Linked DNA regions of Homo sapiens: region 1 is linked to region 2. The links come from fine-mapping of genetic effects on gene expression. A gene starts in region 2. The other region holds a variant in brackets. All regions are shown on one strand. Distances are between the middles of the regions. Region 1 overlaps CHID1 (chitinase domain containing 1). Region 2 holds the start of CHID1 (chitinase domain containing 1).

The links.
Region 1: its variant is fine-mapped to the expression of CHID1 in skeletal muscle (GTEx, PIP 0.92).

What each region holds. Positions count from the first base shown.
Region 1 is chr11:880,530-884,771 of GRCh38, reverse strand. It overlaps CHID1 (chitinase domain containing 1), which reads left to right. Exons shown (of 13, transcript NM_023947.4): 9 at 603-704; 10 at 1,469-1,624. It also overlaps the pseudogene LOC124902604. Among named protein-coding and RNA genes, the nearest start is that of CHID1, 28 kb to the left of the region's middle. The variant G/A (reference allele first, on the strand shown) is at 2,366.
Region 2 is chr11:908,577-912,818 of GRCh38, reverse strand. CHID1 (chitinase domain containing 1) reads left to right here and starts at 2,009. Exons shown (of 13, transcript NM_023947.4): 1 at 2,009-2,044. RefSeq lists a silencer at 1,487-2,326.

The sequences.
Region 1 (4,242 bases), 28 kb after region 2:
CTGCCCTGGCGCCCCTTCCCCCATGCTGGGGAATGTGCCACACAGCCTTGCTCCATCCCTGGGAGCCAAGCACTTGTCCTTCCCGTCTACCTGCTGAGGTCCAGTGAGGGCTTTGGACAGCCTGGCTGGGCCAGGCCGACCCTGAGTGGGCTTGAGGGCTGCATCCCAGGAGCTGCTTCTGCCTTCAGGGAGGCTTTGCTGCAGACCCCGGGAGGGGACGCTCCTGGGAGCCTGGATCAGTCACCTCCATCTCAGCAACCCCAGCTCTTGGGAGTGGCCCATCCTCTTGGCCACTCTCCACTGACCTTGCCCCTCCATGGGCAGCCCTGGCCCAGGTCTCCCCGCCATTAGGTCTGTCATTCTCAGCTGTACCCTGGTCTCAGAGAGGCCTCTGGGCCCCGATGACCACATCCCCCTGTGTCTCCCAGCCCCCAGCCTCTGTGGCCCCAACCAAGCTGCAGGCTGTCCCCACCCCAGAAGAACACTTTTCCCCTTGGGAAAAGTGACCCAAGTCCCCTACAGGCAGCTTGCTCGAACCGCAGCTGGGGAGGGGCTTCAGGCAGGGCATAGCAGCCTGAGGTGGCTGCACCTGTCTGTTACAGGACCGACCAGCTGGGCATGTTCACGCACAAGGAGTTTGAGCAGCTGGCCCCCGTGCTGGATGGTTTCAGCCTCATGACCTACGACTACTCTACAGCGCATCAGTGAGTGTGGGCTTGGGGGGCTCCTGGGCACAGCAAACTCCACAGTGCAGCAGTGAGTGTGGACCTGGGGGGCTCCTGGGCACAGCTGATGCCCTCTTGCCTGTGGTTCTGTGCACAAGGTCACCTGCTGAGTCTGGACACCCACCTGAGGGAAGCCAGTGGGACTGCACCTGCCCCATGCCCTGTGGTGGTCACGTGGGTGGGGCCCTGCCTCTGGTGGAGCTGGGTCACGGCCAGAGGTACAGGCATAGTCCTGCTGCTGCCCGATGCCGCCCTGTCCTCTTTCGCCTGAGCCACACTGTTGTGGGAGGGCCGTGTGACACAGGCGCAGGCAGGGAGACCTCAGGAAGGATGCCCAGAAGGCCTTGTGTCTGCTGACCTCCTTCCCACTGTGTCATGCGGACTCCTGCCTGTGGCTGTGGGGTGGGGGCCGCACATGAGTGCCTGGCCCTGGGTGTGTTGTCCCTCATGGGCCCGCTCTGCTGACAGCCCTTTCTGATGGGTGATCCTGGCCCTGGACATGCCTCATGGGGCCACTCTGCTGACAGCCCTTTCTGATGGGTGATCCTGGCCCTGGACGTGACGTCCCTCATGGGCCCGCTCTGCTGACAGCCCTTTCTGATGGGTGACTTCTGTTCTTTACAACTCTCTAGAGGTGTCAGCCGCAGCATGGGGAGGATGCACCCCTCAGTGGAGGGCCCCAATGATGGCTCAGGTGCGGGGCCCTCCCTGTTGCTGAAACTCGCTCACCCCTTGCCCTGCAGGCCTGGCCCTAATGCACCCCTGTCCTGGGTTCGAGCCTGCGTCCAGGTCCTGGACCCGAAGTCCAAGTGGCGAAGCAAAATCCTCCTGGGGCTCAACTTCTATGGTATGGACTACGCGACCTCCAAGGATGCCCGTGAGCCTGTTGTCGGGGCCAGGTGAGCCAAGGGCTCTCCCTGCCGTGCTGAAGGTGTCACTGGGCGCGGGTGGGTGTGGGTGTAAGGAGACAGAGTGATGGGGAGGGTCTCGGTCCCCTGGGGCTTCTGCCCCACAGAGTCAGAGATAGGGGCTGGGCCAGGAGCCGGTCCTGCTTGGTGCCCACCCCACCGCAGCCCCCACTGTGGTCACCACCCATAACACGGCCACACATCTGCGTGAGGCTGTCCCCACATCTGCGTGAGGCTGGGACTGAGGCTTCCCCCACCCGTCAGCCTTGCCCCACAGCATACAGGCCGGGCCGGGGCCTCCTGGGTTGAATGCTCCTCCTCCTCTCCTCTGCCCGGGAGTAATTTCCTGCTTTGTGTGTTCTTGGTATGCTCTGCGAGTGTGGTTTCTTGTTGGCATTACTTTACTTTATTTCTGGAGGACATCTTTCCTGGCTGTAGAATTCTGGCTGTCGGTTTTTTCACTGGCACCTTAAGCATGTGGCCGCCCTCTCATTCGGACAGCGTTTCACCGCCACCTCTTTCTCCTGCCTGTGTTGCTGTCCTCCCTGCTCGTAGGAATATCTTGTATTTATGGCTGGTTTTGAACAATTTTATTGACGTGTCTTCATTTTCCTTTTGCACAGTGTTCATGGAGCCTCTTGAGTCTGCATTCGTACTCTTAGCAAACTTGGAAAATTTGAGGCCAAATTCTTCAAATATTTTTTCTGTTTCTTCTCTTCTGTCTTCTCGTTT[G/A]GAGACCACAAACACTAGATCCATTGAATTTGTCCCACAGCTCACGAATACACCTTTTACCTTTTGGAATTCTTTTTTTGTTGAGACGGAGTCTCGCTCTGTCGCCCAGGCTGGAGTGCAGTGGCGCAATCTTGGCTCACTGCAAGCTCTGCCTCCCGGGTTCACGCCATTCTCCTGCCTCAGCCTCCCAAGTAGCTGGGACTACAGGCGTCTGCCACCGCGCCCTGCTAATTTTTGTATCTTTAGTAGAGATGGGATTTCACCGCATTAGCCAGGATGGTCTCGATCTCCTGACCTCATGATCCGCCCACCTTGGCCTCCCAAAGTGCTGGGATTACAGGGGTGAGCCACCACACCGGGCTGGGATTCTTTTTTCTCTGTTTTCTTTTTTTTTTTTTTTTTTGAGACAGGGTCTCACCCTGTCGTCCAGGCTGCAGTGCACTGGTGTGATCATAGCTCACTGCAGCCTCAACCTCCTGGGCTGAAGCCATCCTCCCACCTCAGCCTCGCAAATAGCTGGGACCACAGGTGCATGCCACCATGCCCCGCTAATTTTTGTATTTTTTTTGTAGAGACAGGGTTTTGCCATGTTGTCGAGGCTGGTCTCAAATTCCTAGGCTCAAGCGATCCTCCTGCCTCAGCCTCCCAAAGTGCTGGGATGACAGGTGTGAGCCCCGTGCCTGGCCTGGTCATTTCTCTTGCTGTGCCCAACCTGCCATTAATCCCATCCATCCTGAGCCCGACGTGGTCATTTCTCTCACCACCCAACCTACCGCCCGACGTGGTCCTTTCCCTCACCACCCAACCTACCGCCCGACGTGGTCCTTTCCCTCACCACCCAACCTACCGCCCGACGTGGTCCTTTCCCTCACCACCCAGCCTACCGCCCGACGTGGTCCTTTCCCTCACCACCCAGCCTACCGCCCGACGTCCTTTCCCTCACCACCCAGCCTACCGCCCGACGTGGTCCTTTCCCTCACCACCCAGCCTACCGCCCGACGTGGTCCTTTCCCTCACCACCCAGCCTACCGCCCGACGTGGTCCTTTCCCTCACCACCCAGCCTACCGTTAATCTCATCCAGTGCTTTTGTCACCTCGTGTTGTAATTCAATTTTTTTTATTTTTTATGAGATGGGGGTCTCACTATGTGGTCCAGGCTGGTCTTGAACTCCTGGGCTCAAGCGATCCTCCTGCCTCAGCCTCCCAAAGTGCTGCGATGACACGCGTGAGCCACCAAGCCCAGCCAACATGTTATAATTCTCTAGAGGCTTGCTTGGGGTCCCCTTTACGTCTTCCATGTCTCTACTAAACTTTTGCAGATTGGGATTCAGTTGTAAGAACTGCTGAGTGCCCATGTCTGCTGGTTCTGATATCAGGGTCGGTTTCAGGAGGCTGCTTTTCCTCCTTGTTTGGGGTCCTATTATGCTGCCTTCCTGTGGGCCTGGTACTCTCGGGTTGATGCCTGAGGCATTGCGAATTTTACCATGTTGCGTGCTGGGTGTTTTAGCATTTTTATAAATCATCTTAATCTTTGTTCTGGATGCAGTTGAGTTTCTTAGAAACAGTTTTAGCTGCTCACTTTTCTGGAGAACCTGGTCCTTTTTGTGGAGGCCTCGGCTGTCGTCTTTACGAGTTTTTGCAGGTCCCCCACAGGCCTGCCCTCCGTGAGGGGTGTGTGCGTGTGTCAGCCCAGGCAGGTGAGCCGAGGCCAGGCCATCACCCCTGATTCCTCCTGGTCGGCCGTGGGGAGGGGCAGAGGTAACCTGCTGGATTTGCGGGTCCTGAGGGTGGCAGCAGTGGGTAGAGGAGTATGTTGGGGCAGTGTTCCCTGCCCGGCCTCCAGGGGTGCCCTCCGTGAGCCCCTCCATGGCAGATGG
Region 2 (4,242 bases):
TCGCCCAGGCTGGAGTGCAATGGCTTGGCTCACTGCAAGCTCCGCCTCCTGGGTTCACGCCATTCTCCTGTCTCAGCCTCCCAAGTAGCTGGGACTACGGGCGCCCGCCACTACGCCCGGCTAATTTTTCGTATTTTTAGTAGAGACGGGGTTTCACCGTGTTAATCAGGATGGTCTCGATCTCCTGACCTTGTGATCCGCCCGCCTCAGCCTCCCAAAGTGCTGGGATTACAAGCGTGAGCCACCGCGCCCAGCCAAGAAGTCAGTTTTCAATGCAGGTACACGGGGCCCATTGGCACAAACTATGCAGATTGGGAAGCGGACCGCTTTGTGCTGGCAACTGACAAGACTCCCCCAGGAACCCGGCCGTTGGGAGCTCTGCAGAGGGGCCTGGCTCTGGGCTTCCTATCCTCCCATCTGCGGGCCCCATCTGCTCTTGAGGTCTGTAGTTCTGGCCCAGAGTGAACCCTAAGTAGATTCTGCAATTCTTTTTTTTGTTTTTTTGAGACCGAGTCTTACTTTATCACCCAGGCTGGAGTGCAGTGTGATCTCTGCTCACTGCAACTTCAGCCTCCCAGGTTCAAGTAATTCTCCTGCCCCAGCCTCCCCAGGAGCTGGGATTACAGGCATGCGCCACCACGCCTAATTTCTGTATTTTTAGTAGAGACAGGGTTCCACCATGTTGGCCAGGCTGGTGTCGAACGCCTGACCTCAAGTGATCTACCCGCCTTGGCCTCCCAAAGTGCTAGGATTAAAGGCGGCGGCTGCCCGATCGATTCTGCAATTCTTTAGCGCCAAAGACCTCTGACCTCAATGAGATCCTAAAATGGCTAAGTGCCTTTCCTAAGAGAAGTTGGATGTTGCCATGGCCTCCTTAGCATTGGGAGGACTGCGCATATGTCCCTGAGGACACCTGCCATAGCTTACTGGGACCCTCTCCAGAGCTCTGCCGACTTGAGGTCTTCACCCCCAAAGGTCAGGCTTCAGGCCACCATCCAGGCCGTTTGCTGAGAGCGAGTGCTAAGCTGAGTAAGAGCCCACAGCTGGTGGGGGACGTGCCTCGCACCGCATGCAGCCCCCAGCCCCTTCTAGGAAAGGCGTGGGCGTCAGCTGGCAGAAAATACCGGGAAGGGAAAGAAGGAAACGTGACTAGAAAGAAAGACAAAGCTTAGTTTAAGGAGAAAGCTCCCAAGCAGCAGAAATGGAGAAGCAGCTGTGCAGGGTGTCTTGGAGCCCACGCGCGCCCCGGGAACGGCTGAGCGGGGCAGGGTGGGGCCCGGCCGTGCGGTTTTCTGTAGGAAACTGCGCTGGGAACGGCTAGGGCTGGGGGTGGGGGTCGGACAGCCTGTGCCGCGTAGAATGCGCGGTGACTCAAAAGTGCTGGCCACGCGCTCGTTCATCCAAGCGCGAGGGGCTGAGTTGGGAACTTGGTTTGCCTCCTGGGGCTCCGGCTCGTGCAATGTGCAAGGCGGGGGTGCGGACCGAGAGAGCGCGCGTTTCGGGCAGTCCCCGCTGGAGACAGCGCAGTGGGCGCCATCGGCCTGGGGATGGAGATGGTCCACTCAGGCGGGGGTCGGGGGGACGCCAGGAGTGGTGACTCCGGGTCCCCGGGGGAGCGTGCCGGGGCGGAGCCCACCGCGCGGTTCTCCCGGCACCGCCGAGCCGGGCAGAGGCCCTGGAGCCCAAGGCCCCGCGCGGCCCCACGCCAAGGGCGCCAGGCCTGCCTAAGAGCCGTGGCGCTGGGAACCCGGCTACCCCTGGGCCGGGAACCTGATAACCAGCTCCAGCGCGAGCACCAGGGGCGCTCAAGGTGAACGCGCCGGGCCCGGGGTCCGCCCCCGGCGCGGCCCCGCCCCGGCCCCGGCCCCGGCCCCGGCCCCGACTTTCGGGCAGCCCTGCCCAGTCCCCTGTCCTGGCCCAGCCCCTCTCCATCCCAGCGTGCCGTGCGCGGCGGCGGCGCGCGGGCGCCTGGGGCGGGACTTCCGGCGCGCTGGAGCGTTTTCCGGCCGTGCGTTTGTGGCCGTCCGGCCTCCCTGACATGCAGGTGAGCCCCGCGGCGGCCGGCCCCTGCTCCTCCTCCTTGCACGGCCTCAGTTTCCCTCCCGCAAAGTGGGCGCGCCGGGCAGCGAGGCTCGGCCCCGGGAGGACGGGCGTGGGGTCGCGGGCGACGCCGGGCGGGTGCGTGAGAGAGAGCAAGTGTGTGAGGGGGCGTGTGAGAGGGTGTGAGGACGAGGGTGAGAGAGGGTTGCTATGAGAGCGAGGGTGAGCGAGAGCGGGGGTGGAGGGCGAGTGTGGACGGGGGCGCGTGTCGGGGGGACCGCGAGTGGGAGGTGGAGCGCGTGCGCTGGGGCGAGCAAGCCTGAGAGCTAGGCGCGCTGGGTGGAAGGGGCCTGAGTGCGCAGACAAGGGATGTGGCCGGCGGGTGAGGAGTGTGTGAGCGCGCGGCTCGTGTGGCAGAGTGGTGGCCATCGGGTCCCCAGGACCCCCAGAGGGAGCAGAGGCAGTAGGGCTCCAGGCGGGCTGCCCTCCCAGTGAGGGGCACGCGGTCCCCGTGAAGGGTGGGCGCATCAGACGCGATCCCACCCACCCTTGGTTCAGCCCCAACCCTTGAAGCTTCCATTGCTGACTGTCCAAACTGGAGGGTGACCCGCCCGCCCGTCCGCCTCGACTTCCTGGGCTCTAGTAATCTCTTAGCCTCCTAGCTACTTGGGACTACAGGTGTGCGCCAGCGCACTCAGCTAAGAATTTTTTTTTTTTTTTGAGACAGAGTCTCACGCTGTCACCCAGGCTGGAGTGCAGTGGCGCGATCTCGGTTCACTGCAACCTCCGCTTCTGGGCTTAAGGGATTTTCCTGCCTCAGTCTCCCGAGTTGCTGGGAGTACAGGCGCACACCACTGCACCCAGCTAATTTTTGTATCTTTTTTAGAGACTGGGTTTCATCACGTTGGCCAGGCTGGTCTTGAACTCCTGATGGGGTGATCTGCCCGGCAGAAAAATATTTTTTGTAGAGACCAGGTCTGGCTGTGTTGCCAAAACCAGTCAAAAACTCCTGGCCTCCCAAAGTGCTAGGATCACAGGCCAGAGCCGCCATGCACCAGTTAGTTCTTCAAAACACAACAGAACAGGAGTTGTCAGTGCGTCCATCGCAGAATAGAGTTAGCTCTGATTGGCTGCTGTCGCTCTACACATGTACACACATGCACAACACATGTGCACACATGACATACACGTGTGCTGGGCTGTGACGTAAAGTGCATTTCTTACTGCTGGTCTCCATGAAAAGCATTGGAAAGCCCCTGCTGTGACTCCCATCATTTCCATCAACACCACCGAGGAGGTCCTGGACCTACGGACTGGGAGCGCAGGAAAGTGGGAGCAGTAGCGCTCCACCTTATCTTGTTACAGAGCGGTTTCTGGGACCCCTTTGGGTGACCAGGGTCGGGGCCTGTGCCTCTTCATAACACAACACATTCCCTTTGTGTGCGGGGCCGTTCTGCCCAAGGGAAGGTCATTGGCATTTGGGGAAGAAACGGTTTGATGCAGGAACACAGTGTGTGTGAACCTGGGAGTCTGTGTTATGTGAAGAGCATGATGGAGAGTGTCCTCACGGGCCTCAGAGCCGAGCGGCCGGTGAGCAGTGGGGAGCGGGAGAGGTACCAAAGCCCAGACAAGGGCCTGGTTGCAGTGTGAGCACCCCTCACACATCACACACACCATCTCCCTGGGGCAGTTGTCTGGAAAGTTCCATGGCAAGTCAAAGAAGCAGCCCAGCATTTGTGAGCAGCCTGTATCCAAGCACTCCATCACAGAGCGGGCAAGTTAAGCGCGAGTGGACAGAGGCAGTACCCTGGCCTTGTGTTCAGTTAGGTTCTCCTAGTGTCCCCTCTGCTGGACACATGCTGGCAGGACTGTCTTCCTCTTCCACCCTTTCCTCTTCCTTCCCTGAAGTGTGAAATCACAGGTTGGGGGGCAGGGAGGTCATAGGCAGAGGGGCCACTAGGTGGGTGGACAGTGGCCCTGTTTCAAATCTGCAGGACGGCAGGTAGGGGCAGAGACCCAGCCCTATAGTGGTTGGTCACTGGGTACCTGAGTGTGCCCTCCAGTTACTCCTGGGCCAGTCCCCTGGAGAACCACCGTTTGGTTTTTCATTCCTTTCCTTCCTCCCTGACCCAGATTTCCACCCAGAAGACAGAGAAGGAGCCAGTGGTCATGGAATGGGCTGGGGTCAAAGACTGGGTGCCT